Homo sapiens: one gene and its partners. The protein of the gene in region 4 interacts with the protein of the main gene of each other region in a pairwise test. Each region holds a gene or a part of one and is shown on either strand. Other genes may lie near its edges. The genes, in order: DUSP29, PPP1CC, PPP1CB and LMTK2.

Region 1 (6,489 bases), on a different chromosome or scaffold from region 4:
ACTCTCTTTGGTTTCTGTCTGGTTTGGGATTCCTGGCCCTGGAAGCTGTCACTACCCGCTTCATGTCTGCTGCCGTTTTCTCCTTCAGAGTGGAAATCACGCAGCCATCGTGCCTGGCTTAGCTCTCAGGGAGGCAAACTCCACACCTGAGCTTACCTGGCTGCCCCATCGTCCCATTCCACAGCAGACAACAATTTGCAAATACTTTCTGCTATGACTGAAAAGCAGCTCGTGTTGCTTTGACTAGAACCCACGTGAAAAGAGCCTCCCTGAGGTCCCCGCTAGAGAGGGTCTCCTCCCTTTTTTTCCCCAAAATTAGAAAGTCAAACTCCTACTTGTCCAAACTCACCACAATTCATTGAATTTTTCTGAGTAGTGGCAGCCCTGGCTAAGAGTCTGAGGAGCCCTGCGTCCCTTGGGAAAGTGGGGGAAGCCTAAAGCAGGGGCCTCTGTACAGAGGTTCAGGACCCCTCCCCACCCTGCTGGAGGAGCACATCTAGAGATGGTGGCGTGAGCCTAGGGGTTCCGCTGAAAAGACAAGCGGCGTGCAAGGGATGCCACAGAAACGCAGGATGCCCGGGAAGGAGCCTCCACAGCTACGCAGGCACTCCCGTGACACTGCTCACCTGGTACGGTTCTGTGGTTGGAAAAGCAATTTCTATTTTAAAATACTTTTTATAAGAAGATGACTTTCCTTTCAGACAAAGCCAAACGTTTAATCACAACATACTGCCTACACATTTTAAAATCTTTTCCCTCTTCCTTCTCACCAAAAAAACAAAACCAAAGCAGGAGACTTGGTGCAGCGTGGCATGCTCCTCTGTGACCCAGAGCCGGGGAGCCCGTCCCTCCCATTTTGCTGAGAGGCTGAGCGCTCAGCTCTGCCCGGGGGCAGCTCTGGGTCCTCCCTGTCCCCAGCACACATGGGGAAGTTGAACAAGATGGTTTGGAAGAGTCGAGCTTCGGTTTCACCATCCCTTCTCTGGAGTCCTAGGCCAGGGCTATGTTCTGCCTCTCCCCTCTGTCCCCAAGTGCCTCTGCTGGCCCTGTGAGTCGGGCCTACAGCTCCCTGCCATCCTCCTCCTCACCGTCCTGGCGCTGGGACCGTCGCCTCTGCTGCACCAGCTGCTTGTCCAGCTCCCGGAGCTGCTTCAAAAAGCCCCGGTTCGGGAGGACGCAGCGGTTCTTGGCCACTTGCTGGATGGCGTCCACCAGGGTCATGTCCTTGTGGATCATCAGGTAGGCCAGGACCAGGGTGGCTGACCGGCTGCGGCCCATGACGCAGTGAACCAGGATCTTACCTGCAGATGGAGCAGGGAGGAGAAAACCCACACTGAGGGGCAGGTGTTGGGGGCACAGGTAGGGCCCACTCCCATCCTGACTGTCACCCTCTCGCCCACAGAAAGTGACTCAGCACTGTGCCCCACAGCTGCCTCTGTAGAACGGGGACACTCTCGGTGTCTTCTTCATAGGGTTGTTGAGAAGGCAAATAACCCTGTAAATAACTCGATTTTAGCACAATTTGTTTGTGCTAATGAATGGCTGCTGAGCTCCTACAGTGTGGCTGGGCTGCCTTTCCCCTGAGCACCATGGCCAGAAAGCAAGCACCCACTTCTTGATTGCTGTTTCGGATCTGGGGGAGGCTGGTCCCAGGTTCTCCCTGGCATGACCGCGCTCCTGGGGTGTGAACGTGTCCAGCTGGATGAATGTCCACCCCTGGCATTCAAATCCCACGGACCTTTCTGGAGGCTGCCGGGCCTCTGGCCAGCCCTGCTGATAACCAAAGCGTTTCTTCCTCTCCCAGAAAACAGGGTAATTCTTTCTGTCATGACTCAGTACTTGAAACAGATGAAAGCTGTAGTTCATTAAGCCTTTTGGGGGCCTGAATTCTGTTAAGTGGCAGAGGGGAGGGGAGAAAGAGTTGGAAGGGAGATGGAGGGGGTGGGAGGAGAGGGGGAGGTGGAGGGAGCAGGAGAGAAAGGGGAAAAGGAGGGACAGAGGACACTAAGCTCTGGTAGGAGTTCCAAGAGCTGAATTTTGTTTCCAAGACTAGGGCATGAGGCCGGGCGCGGTGGCTCACACCTGTAATCCCAGCACTTTGGGAGGCTGAGGTGGGCGGATCACTTGAGGTTGGGAGTTCAAGCTGGGTGAATGCACATGTGTTACTATTGGAGGAGTCAGGCCTATTGAGAAGAATCAAGGTCCAGGCAACACTTTTGTTCCTTCTTGTGGTCAGATTAGCTGAGACCCATCATGCCAGAGCACATCTCTTACCATCACAGGGGCCAGCACTATACCTGTGTTGGGCTTTTATTTCCCAACTTCTGTCAGAGCTCCTAGGGTCCCCCTGGCCAGAGCACACTTGTTGCAGTGGGAGAGATCAGCGCCCCTCTCATGCTTGGAGATACTTTTCTTCATGACTACAGTCAGAGCCCTTGAGGCATGCCTGACCACAGTTCATCTTTAGGAACAGCAGCAGCTAGTGCATACCTATGCTTGCAGGTCCTTATGTTCTCACATACAGTCAGAGCACCTGGAGCCCATGTGGTTAAAGCCTGGCCAACATGGCAAAACTCCATCTCTACACAAAAATTAGCCAGTCGTGGTGGTGCACCTGTAGTCCCGGCTACTCAGGAGGCGGAGGCAGGAGAATTGCTTGAACCCAGGAGTTAGAGGTTGCAGTGAGCTGAGATCGCGCCACTACACTCCAGCCGGGGCGACAGAGCAAGACTGCATCTCAAGAAAAGGAAACCCAAATCCAGAATCTCTACTGCTCCTCAATTGCATGCTTTTAGGAGTGACTGGAAGGTAGGCCTCTGTCACGAAAATCAGACGTAGGCTAAGACTGTTACCCTGCACCACGCTCCGCCCCGCAGCCAGGTGTGCTCCTTGCTAAGCAGACTCCTTCCTTGCTTTCAGGAGATGCTTTCTGCCCATCTCCCATGCACTATCTGGGAACCTGCCTTTCTTAGTAACTTGCAAAGAAATTCTGGTAGAGCCCTTACTTCTTCCCAAGAGGTTCTAGGTGTGTGGAAGTTCTGAGAAACAAGGTGCAAGGTGTATTATGAACTGCCGGGGCTGGAGGGAGATAGGGCAAGAGACCCTTCCAACAGTGAAAATCGGCTGGGCGTGGTGGCTCATGCCTCTAATCCCAGCACTTTGGGAAGCCGAGGTGGGTGGATCACTTGAGGCCAGGAATTGGAGACCAGACTGGCCAACATGGTGAAACCCTGTCTCTACTAAAAAATACAAAAATTCACCAGGTGTGGTGGTGGGCACCTCCCAGCTACCTGGGAGGCTGAAAGAGGAGAATCGCTTGAATCCGGGAGGTGGAGGTTGCAGTGAGTGGAGATCACGCCACTGCACTCCAGCCTGGGTGACAGAGCGAGATTCCGTCTCAAAAAAACAAAAACAAAAACCAAACAGTGAAAATCTGGTCGGTTAAAGCTTATTAGAAGCACCAGAGAATCAACCTCCTGCTTGAAAGCAGGCTTCATTTATTTATTCATACTTCCCTTATCCATAATATATTTTAAGATGCCTTCAGAAGCAGGCCATGGACTGCCAAAAGGAGAGCGTGATACTAAAGTCTGATCTTTAGCGCCTCGTGGCATTTGCCCTGGAGTTTCTTAGAAGACTTCATTAAATTAAAACCACACTAATTCACCTCGGAGGATGCCGAATCGGGGGCAGTTAAAGCAACCCAAGTGGGGTTCCTGTGACAGTATTTTGTGAGTACTTCTTTTTCTGATGAAGAGTGACAAATTCAGTTTTTTCAGATCCTATAACCAGCTGGCATGACTCGCCCTCCATGATATTCGGTGACCTCTTATACAGCAAAGTCACCAGGTGCTCAAAATAAGGGCAGAGGACTCTTCTGTGAGGCCTCGGTGACAGAAGGAATCCCCGCTGGTAGGCAGGTGTCCTGATGGCGCTGCCTCTGATTAGCTCTGTGACCCTGGGCACCTCACTTGTCTTCTCTGGGCCTCTGTTTGCCCAGCTGTCAGGGCAGGACCAGGGACTGGATTATCTCCGAGATATTTTAAGAGTGACTGAGGTTGCCTGGGGAGTTCTTTATAAAGGGTCAAGTCAGGGTAGTGATGGGATGGGAGAGGGCCCCAGGGGCTGATTACAGCCCACGAGTACAGCTCCACAAGGAACGCTTTTCAAAAAGAGTGAAAATGACCGGCTGTGAGAAGCCAGGTAGGGGGAATGGTGTACACTTGGCTGAAACCAGTCAATGAGAACAAAGAACATAGACAAGAGGAAGCAAGGAGTGATGCCTTGCTTTTTGGCCAGACTGTCTATCCACACCACTTACATAGAGAGTGTAAGAAACATACAAGTAGGTCCAGCACTAAAATGCCAAGCAGTGTCCCTTGCCTAGACACAACTGCATGTGGCAGGTGGGCTGAGCACCTGCCGTCCACTGGGTATGAAGTCTGTGGCATTGCTGCTGCTGAGCTAGCGGGCATTTTGTTTGGTTGCTCTGGCCACTCAGGGCACAGGTTACAACCTGATGGCCATTGGGTTGCTTTAGTCTGTCCTTTGCAGCATTTTAAGAAATTTCAATCTGTTGCCAAGACCTAAAAATCGAGTGATTTTATAATCCAGATTGGAGACTTCTGAAAAGTCAGATCTCCCACATTTGCACTGACTCTCACAAGACAAGCATTAGCTGAGGCTGGGTGGCAGGTGCCCCTCTGAAGGGGTACAGGGCTCTCTGCTTAGCCACAAGTGCCCCCTACCCACACCCCTCCGCTGTACATGCAGCCATCTTCATTTGTTTACACTCTGCATGGTTCTGCAGGGTAGGCGTTTGAGCCCTGACTTGAATTATTTAGATATGCCAGTGCAAAGGTGCTGAGAGCAGAGCCTACCCTGCCATCTCCAGTGGGGTCATGTCCTGCTCCCCATCCCTAGCCATCTGGTCGAGTCCCGGCACCCCCATCCATTCATTCTATCCCACTCATAGTCTCTGATCCAAGTATCTACTCTCCTCCGTTGGCCCTTTGTTTGCTAGGTGCCACCTGGTCTAACAGTCATGATCCACAGCAGCCTGACACCTCCTCATAATGTTCTGTCATCTGCCTAGGCCTAAGCTTCAACTTGAGAGCCTGATTCTTTCTGGATTTGGCAGTGGGGGCAGACCCTAAAATTGAGTGCCAGGAACCTACAACAAGCTTTCATGTGAGTATATCTTACAGTTCAAAGTTGGAATGTCTTTTTTTTTTCTTTGAGGATTGGAAACTTTACGATGATGATGTGCACATGCTGGCGTGGTTATATGCTTCACAGTGTATGACCACGCTTTATCAAATACATCCGAGAGCCTGCTGTCCACCAGGTTCTATGCTAAGCGCTTTACGCGCGTTACTGCTGATCCTCATTATAACCTCTGAAGGTAAATATTTTTATCACCGGATGGAGAAACCAAGGCTCAGAGAAATCACATCGTTAGTAAATTGTGTGACAGAAATGTAAACCCAGCCCTGTCTTCTCCGAAGCCTGCCAGGCCCCTTCCATGAAGGGTAAGGTCTAAAATATAGTAATGGCAAGTGAGTGCATTAAACAGAAACTGAAGGATTAGGTTGTTGCAGTCTTTGTTTTTTTCATGTCAAATGTGTTTTCAGTTAACTTCAAATACTATGAGGCAAATTTTACCTTGTGGTGATGACTCAGTTCAGTTGTGTTTTTGATCCTGCTTGGAAACCCAGAATGTACACAGCACAAAAGATGGTTCATAAATAGACTCATAAAAGGAAGGCCTGGAAATGAGGCATCTTCTAATACAGGCATGTTAGCTCTAAGGGTTTTTTTTCATTGTGACATTGCTTTCTGAGCCAAAATAATGACAAATTGTTGGTGGCTATGGTTGGCTGTGGGGCCAGGGCCACCTTGGGATGTCCATTAAGGTCTGATATTGTCCAGCAGACCTGGCCTAGGCCCAGCCCCAGGTTGCAAGTTCCTGCAGCAGACTATTTGGTCAGTCACTGAGCCTTGTAATCACAACCTCTTGTGGCAAGAAAGGCTTTCAGTAACCAGATACCCTGAATTATGTGATGGCTCCACAAAGGGGTGTGTGACACATTGGGCTGAAGTCAGAGCACAGATTAGGGAGCTGAAGTCCCTCTGGCCTCTGTGGAATTCCACTGAAGTACACCCTGCAGCAATAACTGTATATTGTCTTACCCCCGATGCGTCCCTAAGCTGTGCCCTTCTCTCCAAAATAGCCTTGTAGCCTTTGCTGGATTAGGGTAGCCAACAGTGCATTCTGAGCACAAAGACTAGCACTGTGATTTAAAAGCTGGATAATTAACACTGGGAAAACTTGGACGCTGGGGGTGCAAAACCCAAATTATACCTCAAATACAGCGTGCCAGTAAAGCCCAGCTTGTCAGCTTTCTACTGGAGGCCTCACGAGGCTGAGTGTAACTGGGGAGTGTAACTTGGTTGGTGGGCAGGAGAATTTAAGGTCTCTCCATGGAT
Region 2 (7,818 bases), on a different chromosome or scaffold from region 4:
CCTAGAGGGAAGGGGTTTAGGAGAGACACATATCTGATCTAAAAGCAATGACTTACATTTTCACATGAAATCTTTTTAAATTCCACAGAAGCATGAAACCAGAATTCCAGATTTGATAATGATTAAGGACTGCCATCAAATCCCAGGAATTATCTGGGAGCATCAATTCTGTTTGAAATTGTCTGCTCTGTCCAATCTCACCGCAGCTAGTCCCCTACTTCTGAATTCAATTACGAACTTACACATGTGGCGTTATGACCTTCCTTCTGAGGAAACCTGAGAGTTAGCACCCATCCCCCATATATGCCCCTCAATAACCTACTGACACCAGAGGATCCCCAGCCCTCAGTACTCTAGCAGGAGGCACAATGATCACACGGCAGTGGCTGCCTCTCACAGGCACTACAGGGCATTTGTTTCCAACACTGCACAGACTCCACATGCTCCCACAGGCCTGATGTCACAGGATGGTCATGTTCCCTCAACAGCACAGGCATCCACACATTCTGGAGTCAGAGTGCAGTTCTGACAGAAATATGCCTCTATGCACTGTTTCTACAGGAAACTGATGTTCTGAGTTTAAAACCTAGTCACATACCTTGCAAGAACAAATTTCTCTGGATTGGTTGAGGATTGTCCAATTGTCCAGATGCCTTTGTTTCCTGTACTTACTATACTAAGCACAATCTTTAAAAACCAGGAGTTTGGCCAGGCGCGGTGGCTCACACCTGTAATCCCAGCACTTTGGGAGGCCGAGGCGGGCAGACCATCTGAGGTTGGGAGTTTGAGACCAGCCTGACCAACATGAAGAAATCCCGTCTCTACTAAAAATATAAAAATTAGCTGGGCGTGGTGGCGCATGCCTGTAATCCCAGCTACTTGGGAGGCTAAGGCAGAAGAGTCACTTGAACCTGGGAGGCGGAGGTTGCGGTGAGCCTTGATTGTGCCATTGCACTCCGGCTTGGGCAACAAGAGCGAAACTCCGTCTCAAAAAACAAAACAAAACAAACAAAACAAACCAAGAGTTTGTCCTTAGTCTCTTTTCCTGGGGAATACAGGGACATCTAAAGGTTTAAACCTATACCTCTCCTTTGAGAGTTAGAGCCAGCCCAAGCAACTGACCTGAACCACACCTCCCACCCTGTAATGCAAATCAAGCAGCTTAGGGAGTTTACCACAGGGCTTGAAATGAAATGTAAATTCAACAAATGTTTGCCTTCTCTCTGCAGAGGAGTGTTATCTTTTCTCCTAATAATTTCTGGTTTCTCAATGACTGGGTCTAACACTGACTATGGTTCACCCTGTTGCATATTTCTTTAGAGGTCCTTCACTAGGGGGTTCGGAAAGTTTAACAAACTTCTCCCGCCAGGCTGAGGAAGGAAAATTGCTTGAACCTGGGAGGCAGAGGTTGCAGTAAGCCAAGATCGCACCATTGCACTCCAGCATGGGCAACAAGAGTGAAACTCCGTCTCAAAAAAAAGCAAACTCCTTCTTACGAAAGGCTGAAGGGCAATCTCCAAAAACCACCAACTCCCATTTCCAACAGCAATACTACTACTACTACCACCACAGGATGAGTATCCTTAATCCAAGATGCTCCAAAATTTGGAACTTTTTGAGCACTCACATGATGCTCAAAGGAAATGCTCACTGGAGCATTCTGGATTTCAGATTTTTGGATTAGGGATGTTTAACCAGTAATTATAACACAAATATTCCAAAATTAAAAACAAAAACAAAAAACCTGCAACACTTCTAGTGCCAAGCATTCCCGGTAAGGAATACTTAACCTGTATTATAAAAACAGAGCTGCTGTCTTAGCTCCCCAGTGACAGTGACTTCCTCTTTCCCCAAGGTCAGCTTCACTTCTGGATACTTTTTTTGAGGTGGGGTCTCACTGCATCACCTAGGGGGAATGAAGCGACGCAATCTTGGCTCACTGCAACCATGGTCTCCCAGGTTCCAGTGATTTTCCTGCCTCAATCTCCTGAGTGTCCGCGACTACAGGTGTGCACCACCACAGCTAATTTTTGTATTTTTAATAGAGATGGGTTTTCCCCATGTTGGTCAGACCTCCTGACCTCTTGTGATCAGGTTGAACTCCTGACCTCAAGTGATCCACCCACCTTGGCCTCCCAAAGTGCTGGGATTACAGGCGTGAGCTACCACGCCCCGGCTTTGATTCTTTAGTTATGCCACATACTCCAGCTTCTCCTGCTGATTCCTGCTGGCTTCTCCATCAAAAATCAGTTTGTTTCCTCCTTTTCCCTCTCAGCACTTTAAGCGTGGGCCTGCCTCTTTCTATTCTCTCTTCATTTCCTCCCTAAGGCTACCTCAGACCACTAGGAACATCTGGCTCCTGAAAGGTTTAGCCAGGGTAATCGCCTAGCTTCCAAATCCTAAGATTCTGAGCCATAACCTGTAATGCGGTTTCGCATTACTGTACATCAGACAGCTACGGCAGCAGAAACAGATCAACAAACACTCATGTTTTACCCAACAACATATACCTCAGCCTTTCCATCACATTTACAAAGTTAAAAAAAAAAAAAAAAGAAATGGTAGTATAAAGTACTTATGTACCTGGAAAACAGGCAGTGGTTTTTAAATTGTCCCATGAAAATCAACATTTGAATACAACTTTTCATTTTAATAAAATTAGTTAAGTATTTTATATATATATTAAATGTCTGCAAGCCTTCAACCAAAAGCCACCTATGTCAAGGGCACTTTCATGCCCACAAGTAGACTGGATGGCAAATTATATCTGCCTGATGAGAGAGAGGAAGCTTGAGCATAAGATCTACAAATTGTGTTGATGACCAAACAGGAGTCGAAACTGATACCAACCAACACTGATCTTCTAAGTCATTTTTTAAAGGCCTCTGCATTAAGTAGAAACCGAAACTGATGCAGCCAGTATCATTACATTAGGATACACGTCACAAAAATGAGGTCAACTGGATTTGAATTCATCAGTGCAAACATGAAAAGTATTTGCTGGGCTAACAGCTATGTAAAAGGAATCCTTTAACTCAAGAGCAGGCCAGGCACGGTGGCTCACGCCTGTAATCCCAGCACTTTGGGAAGCAGAGGCGGGCGGATCATGAGGTCAGGAGATCGAGACCATCCTGGCTAACACAGTGAAACCCCGCCTCTACTAAAAATACAAAAAATTAGCCGGGCGTAGTGGCGGGCGCCTGTAGTCCCAGCTACTCGGGAGGCTGAGGCAGGAGAATGGCGTGAACCCAGGAGGCGGAGCTTGCAGTGAGGCGAGATCGCGCCCTGCACTCCAGCCTGGGCGACAGAGCGAGACTCCGTCTCAAAAAAAAAAAAAAAAACAAAAAACAAAAAACTCAAGAGTAACACTTGGAATAAGTATCCAAAACACAGTGTTGGCTGGGTGTGGTGGCTCATGACTGTAATCCCAGCACTTAGGGAGGCTGAGGTGAAAGGATTGCTTAAACCCAGAAATTACAGGTGGTAGTAAGCTATGATCCCACCTCTGCACTCCAGCCTAAGGCTCTGTCTCAAAAACAAACAAAAAAAACCCATCACACCTGCCTTGCATTTCACTACCTAAGGAGTAGTAACTGGCTTACTGGTACTTCTCTGACACAGAATCACTGTTAATATTGAATACCTTTCATGTACAAGTTCAATGCTATCAGTCAGTCCAGAACCCATAGAATTTTTGTCCCTGATGATTCCTGCCACCCCATCTTATCAGCTGGATCTCAAGGTCACAGACCAAGCAAACATCCAGTTGTGGGAAAGGGTGGTAGTAGAAGGGCTCAGTTTGTGAATATAATCTTTCTAGGATGCACTTCTAACAAATGTGCTAGCTCAACATATCTATGTGAATTGAGATGGAAAAACACTGCATCTGGAGACTCTAGGTTACGATGTGGTCTAGGGGAGGGCCACAGGGACAACCCTTTGCTGATATCCCTATAATCATATTAGCAAATGCCAAGTACCTGAAGTTCCTTAACCACCTCTTCACTCCAAACCTGAAACCCGTCCTGGCAGCAATGATGAGCACAAAAGGAAGGTGAAGGTAAAGATTCAAAACCTTTTCTGACTTGAAACCCTTTACTGAACTGATATTTTCAAAGCTTTTTTTTTTTTTTTTTTTTGAGACGGAGTCTCACTCTGCCACCCAGGCTGGACTACTGTGGTGTGATTTTGGCTCACTGCAACCTCCGACTCCTGGGTTCAAGTGATTCTCCTGCCTGAGCCTCCTGAGTAGCTGGGACTACAGGCATCTGCCACCACGCCTGGCTAATTTTTGTATTTTTAGTAGAGATGAGGTTTCCTCATGTTGGCCAGGACGGTCTTGATCTCTTGACCTTGTGATCCACCCGCTGTGGCCTCCCAAAGTGCTGGGATTACAGGCGTGAGCCACTGTGCCCAGCCTATTTTCAAAGCTTTAAGAACTGTGTTTTGTCAATAGTCAAATCGAAGTATACCTTTAATTAAACAATCCAAAATGGGTCACAAAATGTGTAAAATACTGTAAAAATAATCTTTGTTCAGCACATTTTAGTTTTAGGAAAGTTATTGCCATTCTTCCTGGGTGTGGATATGCCAGAAGGAGAAAAACTATAATAATTTCAAAAACTAATTATTTACGTATTGCAAGATTCCATTTGCATGCAATATTCTCTAGAAAAGACAAAAAGTAGATTAGTGGTTGCCTGGGGACTATGGTGATGGTCGCATAACTCTATAAATTTACTACAAATCGCTGAATTGTACACTTTTAACAGAATAATTTTATGGAATGAAATTACATAATAAAGTTGCTTAAAAAAACTATTTGGAATGGTTCTCAGATTTCTACTAAGAATTAAGTTATCTGTGAATACAACAATTTAAATCTTAAAGCAACCATTACCATGATCATTACTTCCTAATCTGATCATCACATCATAAAAGAATCCAAGACCTTATTTTATTACAGCGGCAGTGTTATTTTTCTACCCAAGAGAGAAAAAACTGGCTGGGCATCATGGCTCACGCCAGTAATCCCAGTACTTTGAGTGGCCTAGGCGGGCAGATTCCTTGAGCCAGGAGTTTCAGATCAGCTTGGGCAACAAGGTGAAACCCCATCTCTTCAAAAAAATACACAAATTAGCCAAGCGTGGTGATGCATGTCTGCAGTCCTAGCTACCTGGGAGGCTGAGGCAGGAGGATTGCTTGAGCCTGGGAGGCAGAGGTTGCAATGAGGTAAGATGGTGCTACTGCACTCCAGCCTGGGCAACAGAGTGAGACTCCGTTCCCCCACCCCCCTAAAAAAGCTAAGCTAAAAACAAGTTGATGAAATAGAAAACATGAGAGATGATACCACTGCATCTAAACTCTCACAATTCCTAACAGAAGTATGTGATAATTGTTTATGATAAATATCTTAATTTCAATAACTCTTCCTTAGATATAGAAAAGTACTTACATTCATCATAAAATCCATAAATTCTGTTGATGCTGGCACATTCATGGTTCCCTCTGAGAAGAAAAAAATTCTCAGGATATTTTATTTTGTAGGCCAGTAAGAGGCAGATCGTCTCCAATGACTGCTTTCCCCTGTCCACATAGTCCCCAAGAAACAGGTAGTTGCTTTCTGGTGGGAAACCACCGTACTCAAAAAGTCGCAGCAAATCATAGTATTGTCCATGGATGTCACCTGGAAGCAAGAATTTTGTTACACAGTGTTCCCATACTTAAAGCTCAATCCACTAACAAAGCTTTGGAAAGACATTCTTTAAATATTCATTGTACAATGGCATTGACCTCTAGTAATGAGAGTTTAACTGGGCAGCCAACACTAAGTAATTTCCAATCTTATATCATATTTAGTTCAACTGAGCTTAACAAAAATTTTAAGTATATGTGTATGTCCAGAACCTCACATAAAATTCAACTATTAAGAATTTATTCTGTGGAAAGGGTTATTATGTCCAAGCATGCATTCTTGCCAAGTAACATGGTATCCCTTTCAGGCTGACTGATCAATATCAGATCTCTGACAGCTCAGTCTCTGGGTACTGTGTCAGCAGAACTGCTGCACTTCTAGTGAGTCTTGGCCCCATCTGAACAAAAGCACATACACACATACACACCACCCCCACCCCCCACCCATCAATGCATTTAGCTTTCAATTTCTCCCTGCTAGATAATGCCAAAGAACATTTTACTTTTAAAAACATGAACACAAAGTTTTATCAATGCAAATATGCTATAAGAATATATTACTCAAACGAATAAAGTTTGGTTTTACATTGAGTTAAAACACAGATTATTTGCTTCTATTATGCAGAAAACAGAACCACAAAATCAGTATCAAGGAAGTTCTATTTTTAGCTATAACCAGTGTTGCTTTAAACTTAAACATATTCCTATACATCCATGTAGTTCAGACCTTTCCTCAGCTCTCCATTCTTAGTTTCATTTTTTTCTTTTGCAATGTTTATTCCTTCAGCAAAATATTTTTTTTAAAAATCTGAAGTACATCTAAGTAAACTAAGTCCATTAGAGGTATTTATTCTAAAGCTACTATTTAACTTACTTTTAAGTAGTTCCAAGCTATTCGCAAACAGGATAATCATTCTGCTAGCTAATACAAGGTCATCAACATATCCTTGACTCAGTTAATCAATCATGTAACAAAAGATAACCTGTGTGCCCCAAACTTACCACATATTTTGAGTGGTGCTTCAAGTTCTAGTAGGATAGGCTGACTGAGAAAGATTTCACGAGACTTTAAGCACAGTCCTCTGATTTCATTCTCCTGAAGCTGGACATTCTTACCAGGCTTGGACCCTCTCACTGCAAGAGAAAAATCGCAATTAGTCCAATGAAGCCAAAATACAAAATACAATACGAGATTTAGATAAAGGGGCAAAAACATGGTTTAACTAGCTTTCTGAGTGGCTTCATTTTCAGGACACTTATAATAAACATGGTTTTAATGTCTAATTAGAATCTTAAAATCTTAGACAAGACTTAATTGCATCTTCGATACCAAGTAAGACTTCTTTTATAGTATTCCAAAAAAGGAGCCATCCTGTCTGTGCGAATGCTGTTAGAAACAGGACTGCAGGCCAGATGCAATGGCTCACGCTTGTAATCCCAGCACTTTGGGAGGGTGAGGCGGGCAGATCATGATGAGGTCAAGAGATCCAGACCATCCTCGCCAACATGGCGTGCACCTGTAATCCCAGCTACTCAGGAGAATCGCCTGCACCCGGGAGGCGGAGGTTGCAGTGAGCCAAGATCGCGCCACTGCACTCCAGCCTGGCAACACAGCGAGACTCCGTCTCAAAAAAAAAAAAGAAAAGGAAAGAAAAGAAAAGAAAAGAAACAGGATTGGAAATACTCAGAACCCTCCCCCATCAGTGTTTTCCAGAGGACCATGGGTATCTCCTCCTGAGGATCTCTGATTTAATTTACCTATGAAAAAATGTTAGTGTTGTTTTCATTTCATTAAGAAAATGTTGGTTCATTGTACTTATTTTGCCATGCATTTTCTGGGCCTGCATTTGTGTTTATGCTCATGTCTATATAGGGCAAAGGATGTCAGTCATGTGCTATACTGTAAGAAAGCACGTTCCCTAATAATTTGAACAGATAAGATAATAATGGGAGAAAGAAATCATTGCACAGCATGGGGCATCCACACCACCAGAGCACTTAGGGTTCTTCTATCAAAGTACAAACTTTGCAACAGAACTCACTTGTCAGCACGTAGGTAGTTGTGGGAAAGAAATTTTGTTTTGGTTCCAGTTGTAACAGACTGGATAGTCATTAGATACAGAT
Region 3 (7,818 bases), on a different chromosome or scaffold from region 4:
TTGATACCGGCCAGGAGCAGTGGCTCACACCTGTAATCCCAGCACTTTGGGAGGCTGAGGTGGGCAGATCACCTGGGGTCAGGAGTTTGAGATCAGCCTGGCCAGTATAGTGAAACCCCGTCTCTACTAAAAATACAAAAATTAGCCAGGCGTGGTGGCAGGCGCCTGTAGTCCCAGCTACTCGGGAGGCTGAGGCAGGAGAATCACTTGAACCTGGGAGGCGGAAGTTGCAGTGAGCCGAGATCATGCCACTGCACTCCAGCCTAGGTGACAGAGTGAGACTCGGCCTCAAACAAAAACAAAAAATTAAAAGATTAAATAATTCATACCTATTACCAAGTCTACAATCAAATGTTCTCTTTTTTTGAGACTGAGTTTCACACCCATTGCACAGGCAGGAGTGAAATGGTACGATCTACACTCACTGCAACCTCTGCCTCCTGAGCTCAAGCGACTTTCCTGCCACAGCCTCCCAAGCAAGCTGGGACTACAGGTGCACACCACCACATCTGGCTGTTTTGTATCTTCTGTGGAGACAGAGTTTTGTCATGTTGCCCAGCCTGGTCTCCAGCTCCTGGGGCTCAAAGGATCTGCCTGCCTCAGCCTCCCAAAGTGCTGGAATTACAGACATGAGCCACTGCACTGAGCCACAATCAAATTCTTCAATGGTCTCAAAAATACTTTTTTAAAGTGTGGTTTGCTCTTATCAAAATCGCCATTATGCACAAAGATTATATAAAAATGAGGCTGGGCACAGTGGTTCACGCTCACGCCTGTCATCTCAGCACTTTGGGAGGCTGAGGCGCAGATCACTTGAGCTCAGGAGTTCAAGGGCAGCCTGGCCAACATGGTGAAACCCTGTCTCTACTAAAAATACAAAAATGAGCCAGGCGTGGTGGTGCGTGCCTGTAATCCCAGCTGCTCCGGAGGCTGAGGCAGAAGAATCGCTTGAGCCTGGGAGGCGGAGGTTACAGTGAGCAGAGATTGTGCCACTGCACTCCAGCCTGGGTGACAGAGTGAGACTCCATCTCAAAAAAAAAAAAAAAAAAAAAAATCTAAATCATATCTACAAAGCTTCAAAGAAGCACTGAAAATTTTGTTAGGTTTGCTGTATACTACAAAAATACATTCTTTTTTTTGAGACTGGGTCTAGCTCTTTCACAAGGGCTGGAGAGCAGTGACATAAACATGGCTCACTGCAGCCTTGATCTCCTAGGCTCAAGCGATCCTCCCACCTCAGCCTCCCACGTAGCTGGGACCACAGGCACGCACCACCACACCCAGCTAAATTTTTGATTTTTTTTGTAGAGATGGAATCTCATTTTGTTGCCCAGGCTGGTCTCAAACTCCTGTACTTAAGCAATCCACCCATCTCAGCTTGCCAAAGTGCTGGGATTATAGATGTGAGCCACCATGCCCAGCCCCAAAATATTTCTAAACATTTCCTCTTTTAGGGTGATAAAAGGTTAACAAATCACTAGATTGTTAAGTGTGAGATCCAGGAACTGGCTCTGCCACCTCTCCTACTGCTTTCCTTGTACAACTCATTTAGCTTTCTTGGATATGTTTCCTCAAAACAAAATGAGAGGGCTTATGTGAAGTTAACAAATAATAAATGTTTAAGAGTCCAGGTGTGGTGGCACACGGCTATCGTCCCAGCTACTTGGGAGGCTGAGGCACAAGAACTGCCTGAACCCGGGAGGCACAGGTTGCAGTGAGCAGAGATTGCGCCATTGCACTCCAGCCTGGGTGACAGAACAAGAATCTGTCTGCCCCTCCGTCTGCCCCCAAAAAAAAGAAAGAAAAAAGAAAAAGCTTAAGAGTTTTATATTTCATACCTGATGAGCTCGACAAATCAAATCTAAATCATGACGATTCAGAAATTTACTGACTACATCAGCTCCAAAAGTAAAGGAAACACCACGATCATTTTCTCCCCAGCCTTGCACATCCTTATCTGGATCAGACCATAGCAAATCACAGAGCAAACCTTTAAAGGACAGAAATACAGCAATTAAGAACAAAATTTACAGATTTATAGAATATAGCACATCTACATCAAATTTCAGTTCCTTTCTTGCCCTCTTACCTTTTACTAAACAATGACCATCACTTGCCTAAGTATTCCAGCCTATGTAACTTATACTTTTGTTAAAGCAACCATACAAACCATACAAATATAATCTTCCATGGCCTCTTAAGGTAGTACTTTCCAACCCTTTCCACATATAGGAAATATGTGCATGGCACTTACAGCACAACAATACATGGAAAAGGCTGTTCATCTTTTGGGTAGTTTCTCCATATGAATAACCAAACAACCCAGTGGTATTTCCTCAACAGTTCATCCTTTCCTTACGGTTCCACTGTTTCTGAGCACCACAGTCTATTCTGTTAGTCTATTTTACTTATCCCTGAGCCAATAACAGACTAGAGCTTTTTAATAAGTCTTTATATTTGGTAGGGCTAGTATCCTCCATTTTTTTTTCAGGATTGTCTTGGTTACTTTTTGATCTTTTGTTCTTCCACATAAACATTAAAAACAATTGCCTAATTCCATAAAAAACTCAATTGTGATTTCACTGGAATTGTATTTGATCTACAGATCACTTGAGCGAAAAAAAAACATTTTCTACTGAGACCCTGAGGATTTTTTTTTAAATGTGGAAGAACAAAATCAGATCAGATCCTTGACTTTGGTAATGTTTGGAGCCCTGGAAAAGAGGTCAGGGTTAAAAATATTTACTTGAGTATTGTCATCATATTAATGGTAGTGGAAATCTTAAGAGGGACTCAGACCACCTTAGGAATACAAAGTGAGAAGACCAGCAAATGAATTCTGAGGAATTCAAACATTTAATAGGCAGGTAGATGAGGGAGAATGAACATTAGGTATTGAGAAGGAATGATCAAGACAAAGGGCTTAGTATAGTAAACGTATCCCGAAAGGGGAAACAATCGTCCTAAAGTAGGAAATGTGCCATGAACAAGGGCAGTAGGACGAAGACCAAAAATGTGCCACTTACAATTAAATCATCAGACCTCAATGCAAGTTTCTTGGTGATTGAGGGTAACGGAGTGGGTAAAAGTCCAACTGTAGTGATATTAAAAGAAGGGTGGATGTTGAGATGGTGATGGTGATTTTCTAAGAATTGCAGTGGCTAAGAGAAGATACATATATATTTTTTTGAGACGGAGTCTCGCTCTGTTGCCCAGGCTGGGATGCAGTGGTGCAATCTCTGCTCACTGCAAACTCTGCCTCCCGGGTTCACGCCATTCTCCTGCCTCAGCCTCCCGAGTAGCTGGGACTACAGGTGCCCGCTACCACGCCCGGCTAATTTTTTGTATTTTTAGTAGAGATGGGGTTTCACTGTGTTAGCCAGGATGGTCTCGATCTCCTAACCTCGTGATCCGCCCGCTTCGGCCTCCCAGAGTGCTGGGATTACAAGTGTGAGCCACCGCGCCCAGCCAAGAAGATAATTTTTAAAGAGTTAAGTCAGTTTTAAGAATTTTAAATAATCCATAAACATCATAGTATGGTTTAGGAGGAAAGGGCATCTTCATTTTCAGTTACAGTACATCATATCTTGATAGAGGCATTATAAAACCATTTGTAGAATTAGTGGCAATGTATTCAATCTCTATCATTGATATATCCCAAGCTCCCTGTATGTTGTTTTAAGAAATTCACTAGCACACAAAATCCACTGGAATAGTCAGTCTCAATTCTTAAGCCCTTTCTGGTTGAAGCTGACTCTTCGAAAATATACACCCACCCAGTGCTTAATAATGCTTTCATACTTTCCAGCCTCTTTCCAGTAGAAAGCTAAGGTATTAAGAATCTATAATTTCTTTTTTTTTTTTTTTTTTTTTGAGACGGAGTCTCGCTCTGTTACCCAGGCTGGAGTGCAGTGGCACGATCTCGGCTCACTGCAAGCTCCACCTCCCGGGTTCATGCCATTCTCCTGCCTCAGCCTCCCGAGTAGCTGGGACTACAGGCGCCCACTGCCACACCCAGCGAATTTTTAGTAGAGATGGGGTTTCACCGTGTTAGCCAGGATGGTCTCGATCTCAAGAATCTATAATTTCAGTGAGACAATAAAACTGTATAAAATTAGAATAGAGTTTGAGGTTTAGGAAACATGACACTCTGGATGCATTAAAAAAATCAAATAATGGTAGCAACAACAATCTGGAATTCTTTAACCTTAACAGGGTCTAGATAAGAATTTCAGGCCAGGTATGGTGGCTCACGCCTGTAATCCCAGCACTTTGGGAGGCCGAGGTGGGCGGATCACCAGAGGTCAGGAGTTCAAGACCAGCCTGGCCAACATGGTGAAACCCTGTCTCTATTAAACATACAAAAATTAGCTGGGCACAGTGGCAGGAACCTGTTATTCTAGCTACTTGGGAGGCTGAAGCAAGAGAACTGCTTGAACCTGGGAGGTGGAGGTTGCAGTGAGCCGAGATCAGGCCATTGCACTCCAGCCTGGGCGACAAGAGTGAAATTCTGTCTCAAAAAGAATTTCAGAGTCAAGATTTATTGTTTAATGAGCTAGCATCACAATCAACTAGGCTGCTTCAAATAATGTATTAACTTATAAATTAAATTTCTGAATGTTGCAGACACTATCAAAGATCAAAATAACTGTTTTCAGCATCTTGAAAACTTCTCATTAAAATACGCTAAAATAAATAAAACATGCTAAAAACAGAAGCCTAGCATATCACACTAGATCAGTTTACATCTGAACTATAAACAGATATTCTGAAGAATGACCAGTAATACATATTTATATTATACCTTATTTTAAAAATAGCACTTTGGGTGTTTTTTGAAAGAGAGGGTCTCACTGTGTCACCCAGGCTAGAATGCAGGAGCACAATCACAGGTCACCGCAGCCTCAACTTCCCAGGCTGAAGTGATCCTCCTGCCTCAGCCTCCTGAGTAGCCGCGGTGCTGCGACATGTGGCTAATTAAAAAAAAAAATTTTTTTTTTCTCTGTAGAGATGGGTGTTATGTTGCCCAGGCTGGTCTCGACTCCTCACCTCAAGTGATCTTCCTGCCTTGGCCTCCCAAACTGTTGGAATTACAAGCATGAACTAGTGCACCAGGCCTAAAAACAGCATTTTAAATAAAATACTATTTAAATACCAGTTTGTTAGGTTTAGTCAAATGTATTCTATAATTACAATCAAAAACTGTGATAAAATGCATACTTTAAAAAATAATCAACACAACAAGTCGTGTTATGTAAAAAAGCTCATAACACAGGCCAGGTGTGGTGGCTCACGCCTGTAATCCCAGCACTTTGGGAGGCCAAGGTGGGTGGATCACAAGATCAAGAGATCGAGACCATCCTGGCCAACATGGTGAAACCCCATCTCTACTAAAAATACAAAAAATTGGCCGGGTGTGGTGGCGGGCGCCTGTAGTCCCAGCTACTCGGGAGGCTGAGGCAGAAGAATCACTTGAACCCGGGATGCAGAGCTTGCAGTGAGCCGAGGTTGCACCACTGCCCCCCAGCCTGGTGACAGGGCAAGACTCTGTCTCAAAAAAAAAAAAAAAAAAAAAAAAAAAAGCTCCTAACACAATTTATTACAACATACAGTGTATTACATGGCTACTGACATCAGAGGATCTATACCATTTATAATGGTTGATGTGTAGTTCTGAGCAGCATTTTTTGTGGTGATTGTTGTTTCTTTTTTCTTTTTTTTTTTTTTTTTGAGACAGTTTCACTCTGTCACCCAGGCTGGAGTGCAGTGGTGTGATCTCGGCTCACTGCAACCTCTGTCTCCCAGGTTCAAGCAATTCTCGTGCCTCAGCCTCTTGAGTAGCTAGGATTACAGGAACGCACCACCATGCCCAGCTAATTTTTGTTATTTTTAGTAGAGATGGGGTTTCATCACGTTGGCCAGGCTGGTCTGGAACTCCCGACCTCAAGTGATCCTGCCCACCTCAGCCTCCCAAAGCGCTGGGACTACAGGCGTGAGTGCCACTGCTCCCAGCCTTCCCAGAGATTTCCAATGTAATTTTCACAAAACTGACCACAGGTCTCTAGAGCCTTAAGAGCTCTAAAAATTTAAGCCAGGTATGGCACATGCCTGGAGTCCCCTAGCTACTCAGAAGAGGCAGGAGGATTGCTTGAGCCTAGGAATTCAAGGCCAGCCTGGGCAACAGATTGAAATCCCTCCCACACCCCCTTGAAAAAAAGCTCTAAAAATTTCAAATAGAGGACATAGAAAATAACAAAAAACTACTAGACATTTGAAAAGAAGGTAGTTGTATCCTTGCCTAAGAAGCAAAGAATAGATTATTTTAATTAAAAAACTTTTGTCTAATTTAACAAATTTTTGAAGAACATAACCAATGCTAGTATGAATGAGGGAATTTAGAAAAATAGGTATAAGGACTCAACAGCAAAATCTTTTTTGTGATCAAATAACTACATTATGACTATAAATAAAAAGGTTCCGCATTTTGAGGATCAGTGCAAAGTGAAAAATTGTGTATTACTGCAAATAAAGTAATCTGTAGCTGGCTTATTGACTATGAAAAAAGCTCTTTTATTTATTACATAAGCCAATCCTACTTCCACTAAATGTAATCAAGTTCAAATATGAAAACACTTTACACAAAACAATTAAACTTCTCTCTACACTTACCTGTATCAGGGACATCAGTAGGTCTCATAATTCTCCGAATCTGCTCCATAGATTGCAGGTCTGGTGACAATCCTATAAATAAAAAGATGAGACATAGTACTAACAGCTAAAAATTTTAATATTTTAACAGTCACCGAATAAAAAGCATTTAATCAAAATAGATTCACTATGTGAAATTAAAGATACTGAAAAGTGTTCCTTTTAACGTCTTTTTTTTTTTTCGAGACAGAATCTTACTCTGTCACCCAGGCTGCAGTGCAGTAGCGTGATCTCAGCTCACTGCAACCTCCACCTCCCGGGTTCGAGCGATTCTCCTGCCTCAGTCTCCCGAGTAGCTGGGACTACAGACGCGCGCCACCACATCCAGCTAATTTTTTGTATTTTTAGTAGAGACGGGGTTTCACCATGTTGGCCAGGCTGGTCTCGATCTCTTGACCTCATGATCCAACCACCTTGGCCTCCCAAAGTGCTGAGATTACAGGCGTGGGCCACCGCGCCCTGCCCCTTTTAATGTCTTAAAGGGCAACACAGAGTTATTAGGAATTCCACTTTGATATAATACAGCATTATAATTGTTTTTTTCCATTTTTCCCTACCAGGGAAATGAAATTCCTTTATATTTCAAAAGACTTCCCAAGGAAAAAAAAAACTACCATTCTTTTTTCCAATCATTCCCTGGCCTTCATAGAAACATAATCAACTGCAACCCTTCCTACCACTTTTGCCAGTTCTTACCACTAATCTTAAACATTTTAACTTCTAAGTGAAAGTGCCTCACTTGGTTCCCTAAGACCTTCTTTTCACATCCCACTCCAACATGTTCATTATCTTCATGAAGTCATAAACTATTGATCAGAAGGATTAACAGGAAAAGCTCATAAAAATACTCTGCAATCTTTGAAGTGGTATATAAGCTATTATTTCTCTCTGATAGGCAATCCAAGTATCATCACAAGGAATGAAGCTAAACATTCGTATCCATACTGCTACACTTCTATCCTTAGCTACACTAATGTACAAGAACTACAATTCATTACGTGTTTAATGTCTACTGGAAAACATATTTCAATTAATATAGTGAATTATGTTCTGCCAGAGAATAAACCATTTATTACCTCGGGCCTAGGCAAGTGCATCTATCTTTTCAGC
Region 4 (8,747 bases):
GTATTTTGAAAAATTTGTGAATGGCCACCAAAGTCTCTGTTTAGTTAGCTTAGTGGTCAGCTAATGACTACAGAGATATCCTTAAATTCTTTTTTTTTTTTTTTTTTTTTTTTTTTGATATAGAGTTTTGCTCTTGTCATCCAGGCTGGAGTGCAGTGGTGTGATCTCGGCTCACTGCCACCTCTGCCTCCTGGGTCCAAGTGATTCTCCTGCCTCAGCCTCCCGAGTAGCTGGGATTACAGGCGCGTGCCACCATGCCCAGCTAATTTTTGTATTTTTAGTAGAGACAGGGTTTCACTATATTGGCCAGGCTGGTCTCAAACTCCTGACCTCAGGCGATCTGCCCAACTTGGCCTACCAAAGTGCTGGGATTACAGGCGTGTGCCACTGTGCCTGGCCTCCTTAAATTATTTGAGCCAATATGTCTCCCTGGTTTTGCTAAGAGTCTCTGTATGTGTGTTGGAGCATGCATCTGATGCTCTGGCAGTTTAAAATTCTGCCCCAGTCCTTACTGTGCTTGCACAGCCTCATGATCAACTAGGAATGAGAAACGAGGGCCTTCTCATGTATTTCCTAGCCATGTTCATAGCCTTGTACATGCACATGGCTTTCTAGATTTCCAATAATATGGTGGATCTTTTCAAAGCTCCCAATGACATATTATTCCCTAGATTTTTCTTTTAAGTTTCTCATCAGCCAACTGGTATCACTGGCTCAGGCAATTGCAATGTTAAACAGTTGTCACTGATTATTTTCAACAAACAGGATAGGACTATTTTCACTGAGGCATTTCTGAGTCATATCAAATGAAGAAAAGCCCTGAAAATAGTGCCTTTCTAAGGAGCTGCCAGACAGGTCAGATAGTCACAGTTCTTTGGGGATACAGGTTTTGGGGGAGCTCCAAACCTATTCTGCCCCCTCTGGTAGCTGCTAGCCTGCTTATTTCCACAGTTCCCATGGTGGTGAAGTTGCTGGTTTTCAAGGCTATCACAGAGGTGGGGAGAGAAGAATGGAAATAGGGCAAGTAAAAATTTCATGAAGCTCATTATTCTTATGAGATTTGGCCATTTTCCTTTTCTTTATTTTAAGAGACAGGGTTTCACTATGTAGCACAGGCTGGAGTGCAGTGGTGGAATCACAGTTCACTGCAGCCTCAAATTTCTGGGCTGAAGCAATCCTCCCATCTCAGCCTGCCAAAGTGCTGGGACTACAGGCATGTGCCACTGTGCCTGGCTAATTATTTATTTTTAGTAGAGATTGGGGTCTCACTATGTTACCCAGGCTGCTCTCAAACTCCCAGGCTCAGGTGATCCTCCTACCTCAGCCTCCCAAAGTGTTCGTATTACGGGCGTGAGCCACCACACCTGGCCTCAGCCATTTTTCTTTAACAAATTGACTCATGATATTGCAAACCTCTGGCAAATTCCTAGAGTTCTGAAGAAGTTTATGTGGACAATTTTGCTAGTGCTCTTCTTGCCTTCCATTCTTCAAGTATCAGTCCATTCTTGCATTGCTATAAGGAATACCTAAGATTGGGTAATGTATAAAGAAAAGAGGTTTAATTGGCATATGGTTCTGCAAGTTGTACAGGAAGCATGATGCTAGAATCTGCTTGGCTTCTGAAAGGCTTCAGAAAACTTACTATGATGGCAGTACGCAAAGGAGGAGCGAGGCATCTCACACGGTGGGAACAGTAGAGAGAGAGAGGGAGGAGGTGCTACACACTTTTTAAACAACTAGATCTCGTCAAAGATCACTCGCCATCACAAGAACAGCACCAAGAGGATGGCGCTGAACCATTCATGAGAACCCTCTCCCATGATCCGATCACCTCCTACCAGGCCCCACCTCCAAAACTGTGGATTACATCTCCACACATGAGACCGGGTGGGAACACAAGCCCAAATCGTATCCAAATGCTTCCCTCATGACCTTTGTTTTTAAAATAATTTGTTTAATTATACATTTATATAATTTATTTATTTATTTTTGAGATGGAGTCTCACTCTGTTGCCCAGGCTGGAGTGCAATGGCATAATCTCAGCTCACTGCAACCTCTGCCTCCTGGGTTCAAGTGATTCTCCTGCCTCTGCCTCATGAGAAGCCGGGATAACAGGTGCCAGCCACCATGCCCAGGCCATCTTGGCCTGGCTGGCCTTGAACTCCTGACCTCAAGTGATCCACCTGTCTAGGCCTTCCAAAGTGCTGGGATTACAGGCGTGAGCCACTGCCTATAACTTAAATTTTAACAATGGCTGTGTTGAACAACCAATGCGCATAATTCCTGAACATGTTAACAATTGGCTTTCATGAGTTGGCACCAGCAGCTCCAGGACCCCACCAACAGGCCTCCTGGGTGCCCCATTTGATCCAGCTGAGCTCTGTGAACCTTTAGAGTATCTGCTAGGTGCCAGAGCTCCAGAAGTGCTCATCCAATACTAAGCTGACTCCACATCCTTCAGCATCCAGGCCTCAGCCAGAGCTTGCTGGCAGGACAGACACTGGCAGGAGGGTCTTCCAAGCGATAGCTTGGCATGAAGGAAAACTTGAAAGAGGCTTGGCATGAAGGAAAACTTGCAAGAATGGCTGTAAAGGGCTGGGCGTGGTGGCTCATGCCTATAATCCCAACACTTTGAGAGGCCGAAGTGGGCAGATCACTTGAGGTCAGAAGTTCAAGACCAACCTGGCCAACATGGTGAAACCCTGTCTCTCCTAAAAATACAAAAATTAGCCAGGTGTGGTGGCGGGCGCCTGTAACCCCAGCTACTCAGGAGGCAGAGGCAGGAGAATCACTTGAGCATGGGAGGCAGAAGTTGCAGTGAGCCAAGATCACACCACTGTACTCCAGCCTGGGTGACAGAGCGAGACCCTGTTTCAAAAAAGAAAAAAAAAAAAGAATGGCTGTAAAACACTGAAAGATATTGCTTCTAATCTTAGGTATTGATTTCCAAATTGTGCTAAAGGCTGTTTTCTGACTTCTGGGTGAAACTAAACAAAGCCAACAGGTTTTTGTTTGTTTAATAACATCTCTAACTGGAAGTCTTCAAGTATTGAGTAAAGGCATACACGGTGAGGTGGGTGGTGGGGCAAAGGCTGCCTTTAGACATCATCTGGGGGATGTGCACTGTAACCCCTGTTCTGTGAAAGAGGAAAAGAAGTTTGTTTATTTGTTTGTTTGTTTTAACTTTTGGGCTTGCTCAAATAATAGCAAAATCTACTTTGGGATTGTGGTCCAACGTGCTGTTGGAGTGCACTTTAGTTGTAAATAACCACTACCAGGATTATCAGGTAAGGCCTTCCTTAGGCCAGCACTACAGCAGGCAGTCACGAGCCTCCTTGCAGTACACAGTGTGGGTGTCCCTGGCTTCTCTGAACTCAAAGTGAGAAGCTTCCTGATAGAAGTAGAAGTATAGGCTAGGCGCGGTGGCTCATGCCTGTAACCCCAGCACTTTGGGAGGCCGGAGTGGGCAGATCACGAGGTCAAGAGATCGAGACCATCCTGGCCAACATGGTGAAATCCTGTCTCTACTGAAAATACAAAAATTAGCCAGGTGTGGTGGCGGGCACCTGTAGTCCCAGCTACTCAGGAGGCTGAGGCAGGAGAATCGCTTGAACCCAGGAGGCAGAGGTTGCAGTGAGCTGAGATCGCACCACTGCATTCTAGCCTGGTGACAGAGACAGACTCTGTCTCAAAGAAAAAAAAAAAAGAAGTAGAAGTACAACAGGGTGATTGTGTCTCTTTCCTAGACCTTTGCCTTCCTTACCAATTCTGCATATAATCAGCAGAAAGCCGTGAACTTTTTTTTTTTTAAGACAGAGTCTCGCTGTGTCGCCCAGGCTGGAGTGCAGCGGTGTGATCTCAGCTCACCGCAACCTCCGCCTCCTGGGTTCGAGCAATTTTCCTGCCTCAGCCTCCCAAGCAGCTGGGATTACAGGCATGCGTCACCGTGTCTGGCTAATACTTTTTGTATTTTTAGTAGAGATGGGGTATGACCATGTTGGCCAGGCTGGTCTTGAACTCCTGGTCTGAAGTGATTCACCCACCTTGGCCTCCCAAAGTGCTGAGATTACAGGTGTGAGCCACCGTGCCCAGCCAAGCCATGGACTTTTAAATTCAATGTTTCTCGTTCCAGGTATTTGTCTCCTTAGATATTTATTGGCTTGCCTCAATCATCCAACAAATATTCCCTGGGCATCATCTGTGTGTCCAGTGCTGTGTTAACATCATCGACAGCTGGCATTTAGGATGGACATTTGGGGAGTTTGGAGAATTGGGGAGGTTACACTGTTGCCAGGTGGCAAAGTCTCATCTGATAAGATTGAAATCAGCTCCTCTCATGCACACACTGAACCATAGCGCCTCTCCAGAAAAGCTTAGCATTTTCCCAACCCCCATGCCTCTGACCACTATATTACTTGTGTCTGGAGAGTGCTTTCTCTATCCTCTCTGCAGGACTGTGTTCTCACCTCACCTCTTGGTGGGGAGAAGGCCACCCCTGGGAGCTGCTCTGCCCTGGTACCTGGGACCAGGGCCATGCACCATTGCTTTAGAGAACACCTGCTCCGACCCAGGTCCTGCACCAGGGATTTCCCACCAGCTGAATCAGACACAGTTGCTGTCCTCAGGGAGCTTACAGTCACGGGTCAATAGGATACTGCAGCTAGGATAGCAGTCCACACAGGGCCAGGGCGGGGCACTAAGGAGATGACAGTCATTTCTCCTAGAGAGTCATAGATGAAGTCATATGTCAGGTGAGTCTCGACAGATGAAAGGAAGAGTGTCTGCCAGGTGGACAAGAGGCAACAGCTTGAGCTCAGGAGGTGAGTCAGTGGGTGATGCCGAGAGAGGCATTCTCTTGATCAATTCAAGTGAAAAGCCCAAAGCTGTTTGATGGCTGAGAGGATGTGTAGGTCAACTTAAGGAGAAGAGCCTAAAACAGCTCTGACAAGTAAAAAAAAAAAAAAGGCAGAAGACAAGACAGGCCTATTTTTGCATGTTATAAAACACCGAGAAAAAAATATCAGGATGATTGTCATGGTCTTCTTTACATTTTCCTGTATTTTTCAATTTAAAATAATTGTTGGTGTTACCTGCTGCCCACGCACTCCTCCGTCTGCAGGGGGCGCACCGGCCGCCACCGCTCACTCCTTCAGGATGATGGGCGGGGCCTCCTGGGCCGGTGTGGACTGACGAGTGGCTGGCCGCCCTGTCCATCACGACATCCCGCCCCCGCGCTACGTCACATGACGCAGCCCATCATGGCGGCGGGAGCGCGGCTTCCCAGGCCCGCCGCTCCGCAGGGCTGCTGGCGTTGCTGCTGTTGAGAGGCGGCGGCGGCGGCGCAGGCGGGCGGGAAGGATGGTGTTTCTGCGACTGGAGCGGCAGGTGCGGACCGGGAGCCGGACCGAGGTTTGGCAGAAGCAACGTGTGCTCGGGAGCAACCGGCGCGGGTGCCACTGAGGCAGCGGAGGGAGGCAGGATCGACTGACGGGCGAACGGACGGACGGACGGAAGGCGACTCGAGGGCCGGCCCCGGAGCCGCGCCGTGGGCGAGATGCCGGGGCCGCCGGCGTTGCGGCGGAGGCTGCTGCTGCTGCTGCTGGTCCTCCTGATCGCCGGCAGTGCTGGGGCCGCGCCACTTCCGCAAACAGGTGCAGGTGAGCGGGCCCGCGGCGGGGACGGGGCTGCGGGGTCTTCGGCGTGGAGGGGAGGGGGCGGCAGGGCCGGGCCGGCCTCGGCGCCGAGGAATCGGAGGGCCTGCCGGGGGCGGGAAGCCCAGGGAGGCGAGTGATTAGGGAGATTTCTGCCGCAGGGGCGTGGGATTTGGGGGGGCGGGAGCGAGGCGACGTCGTTGGGGCTGGGGAGGGCGGCGGGCGAGGTAGCAGCCACCGACCCCTCCCGGGATAGGCTGCGGTGCCGGCCCTGGACCTGTTGCCTTAAGATCCTCAGCTTATATCGCTTCCTGGCAGTTCAGCTTCCCTTTCCAGATGTCACCTGCCTCTTGTGCTTTTTTTTCGCATCTCATAAGAACCGTTTCTTAGCCCTAATCATACTTAAATGCAAATGACTTGGCGAGCTGTGCGGAGTTTGTTTTCGCTCCTTGCAACTTATTCTGAAGTTGTAAATTGATTTTAGACGCTGTGCTTTTTATTCGGAATGTATCTCCGGGGATGAGAAGGAAACAACTATAAATATTTCTATTTTAGGAAGCCAGTGATTAGAGTAGCAGGCGTTGAATAACTATTGACAAACTGGCTTAAGGGTGATGGAAGTTTCTATTTTAGCTAACGTCAGTGTATGATTTTCTTTTCTCCCCCCCCGCCCATTTTCTCAACATCGTTTTTATTTGGGGTTTATTTTCCTAAATAAAACTTCAACCCAAGAAAACATCCCAAGTTGGGTCATTTTTCTAAAAAGGAAAAAAAAATCTAGGCTAACTTGGCGTTATTGACTGCCGCCATTACCTTTGAAATGGGGAAAGATTGAAATTTCATACATTCATAGAATGTTAGAGTTAGAAGAGACCTTAAAGAAAATTTAGACCAATTTCTTCTTTACGTAGTAGGAGATACTGGGCATGTTGGGTCAAATGACCTACCCAGGGTGACACAGCTTCGTTGTAGGCAGAGCCCCAAAGCCAGGTCTTAGATACCCCTAGTTGTATGATTTTTTTTAAGTCTTGTAACTGTTTTGGAATACTCTCGAGGTCAAGAGTTATTTTGGAATAATGTTAATTGGGTACAGAATGTGGATGTACTGTCTCCAGTAAAGACATATTTTTCAAACAAATCTACGATGAAAGCTACATGTAATTGCTTCCAGAGCTACATCAGGGTTTGTCATTGAGTGCCCTTTAGTTGAACGTTAAATGTCCTCATTGTACCGTATAATGTAGCACTAAATTTCTGTTACTGCCTTAGATCAAATACTTGTGAGGTGAATTCTGTTTTCTGATCCGATAGATAAGAAGAGTAAATGTTATCAGATGTGTATAGGCAACCCCGGAAAGAGTCACAGGAAATGCCTGGGAAATAATGAAAGATTATGTGGAAGGATGGTGATGTTGATATTTAAAGATATTGATATTGAAAGTTAGCACTAGTATAGTGTAGTAGGTAAAGAGTATTTATATGATGGGGATTCAAGAAATTTCCAGATGACTTTACACTTAATTGGATTTTTATATATTTTGAAGTATCGATTCTTTATAGGAACCTATGTCTGCCTGCACACTTTTTTTTTTTTTTTTTTTTTGAGACGGAGTCTTGCTCTGTCACCCAGGCTGGAGTGCATCATCGGTGCGATATCAGCTGACTGCAACCCCCCCCTTCCGAGTTCAAGCAGTTCTCTGCCTCAGCCTCCTGTGTAGCTGGGACTACAGGCCCCTGCCACCATGTCCGGCTAATTTTTGTATTTTTAGTAGAGACGGGTTTCATCATCTTGGCCAGGCCGGTCTTGAACTCCTGACCTCGTGATTCACCCGCCTCAGCCTCCCAAAGTGCTGGGATTACAGGCGTGAGCCACCGCGCCTGGCCACCTGTACACTTCTTACACGGTTTTTATTCCATTCTTTTACAATTTTATGGTGTCATGAATTATAAAATGAATTTTGTTGGGGTGTTGTAGAACAAAGCAATCAGAAAAGTTAATCTGTAAATAGAGATATCAAATCTTGACATACATATAGCATAAGGAAATATTTGGTAATTTGTAGCAACTTTTGCTACAAATTTTCCTTTCATATTCTGATCTTTGTAGGATAGGTGTATATGTTTTGACGTGTTGCATATGAATAATGGGTACCTAGGGTTAAAGTCTGTGGAAAAGACGCACAGTCAGGCCGGGAGCAGTGGATCACACCTGTAATCCCAGCACTTTGGGAGGCCCAGGTGGGTGGATTGCTTGAGGTCAGGAGTTCGAGACCAGCCTGACCAACATGGTGAAATTCCCTCTCTACTAAATATACAAAAATTAGCCGTGCGTGGTGGTGGGAGCCTGTAATCCCAACTATTTGGGAGGCTGAGGCAGGAAAATTGCTTGCACCCAGGGAGCGGAGCTTACAGTGAGCCGAGATTGTGCCACTGCATCATAGCCTGGGCAACAGAGTGAGACTCCGTCTCAAAAAAAAAAAAAAAAAAAAGAAAGGAAGATGCACAATCAGACATAGATATTCAGGGGCTTGTCTCTCCATCCAAAAGAGTTTATTGATCCTCGTTAGCTGAGGTGGGTTCTTGACCAAGATATATTAGACCAAGTTTAAAAAAAAACCTTTAAGCTAATCCTGACTAGTGAGCTCGCTGGTTAAAAAAGAGGAATCCCGCTTGACCATGTATGGTAGATAAAAGAGCAGTTACACGCCAAAAACCTAACTAAAGCTTCTGGTAATCTAGGAGCCTGCACTCCTTGTGAAGATAGAGCTAGACACTTTCAAATAAGGATAGACCCATTTCATAGGGTCTTTCGCCTCCTTGTTCTTCTTTCTGCTTGAAGCCTGATCAGTCTATCCAGTTTAATGGTGCCTTAGAGAAAGCATGCAGTTAACTGAAATTCAGCTTTTAAACTGAAGATCATTTATCTATGGTGTCTTCATCATCTAGATTCATTGCTAGACTCAGAAGCTGAAAAAGATATTTTCTTATTCAGTCATAATAAAGCTATGTAAATATATAGATTGCACTTGCCCATCAGGCAAGAAGGCATTTCTTGGTTGAACTTTATTTTGGGCCTCTTCTTTGAGCTGGGATGC

What was found.
Region 1: the proteins of LMTK2 (region 4) and DUSP29 interact in a two-hybrid assay, tested with the Homo sapiens proteins (one study listed by BioGRID and IntAct).
Region 2: the proteins of LMTK2 (region 4) and PPP1CC interact in binary tests that used the Homo sapiens proteins (3 or more experiments, as listed by UniProt).
Region 3: the proteins of LMTK2 (region 4) and PPP1CB interact in a two-hybrid assay, tested with the Homo sapiens proteins (one study listed by BioGRID and IntAct).

Annotation. Positions count from the first base shown.
Region 1 is NC_000010.11:75,036,777-75,043,265, forward strand, and holds the end of DUSP29 (dual specificity phosphatase 29), read right to left. Parts: intron 1,302-6,489; coding exon 1,060-1,301; 3' UTR 696-1,059; downstream 1-695. UniProt on the Homo sapiens protein: Dual specificity phosphatase able to dephosphorylate phosphotyrosine, phosphoserine and phosphothreonine residues within the same substrate, with a preference for phosphotyrosine as a substrate. Involved in the modulation of intracellular signaling cascades.
Region 2 is NC_000012.12:110,725,074-110,732,891, forward strand, and holds part of PPP1CC (serine/threonine-protein phosphatase PP1-gamma catalytic subunit), read right to left. Parts: intron 6,829-7,818; coding exon 6,697-6,828; intron 5,687-6,696; coding exon 5,456-5,686; intron 1-5,455. UniProt on the Homo sapiens protein: Protein phosphatase that associates with over 200 regulatory proteins to form highly specific holoenzymes which dephosphorylate hundreds of biological targets.
Region 3 is NC_000002.12:28,782,830-28,790,647, reverse strand, and holds part of PPP1CB (serine/threonine-protein phosphatase PP1-beta catalytic subunit), read right to left. Parts: intron 6,742-7,818; coding exon 6,670-6,741; intron 1,991-6,669; coding exon 1,839-1,990; intron 1-1,838. UniProt on the Homo sapiens protein: Protein phosphatase that associates with over 200 regulatory proteins to form highly specific holoenzymes which dephosphorylate hundreds of biological targets.
Region 4 is NC_000007.14:98,101,623-98,110,369, forward strand, and holds the start of LMTK2 (serine/threonine-protein kinase LMTK2 precursor), read left to right. Parts: upstream 1-5,239; 5' UTR 5,240-5,555; coding exon 5,556-5,658; intron 5,659-8,747. UniProt on the Homo sapiens protein: Phosphorylates PPP1C, phosphorylase b and CFTR.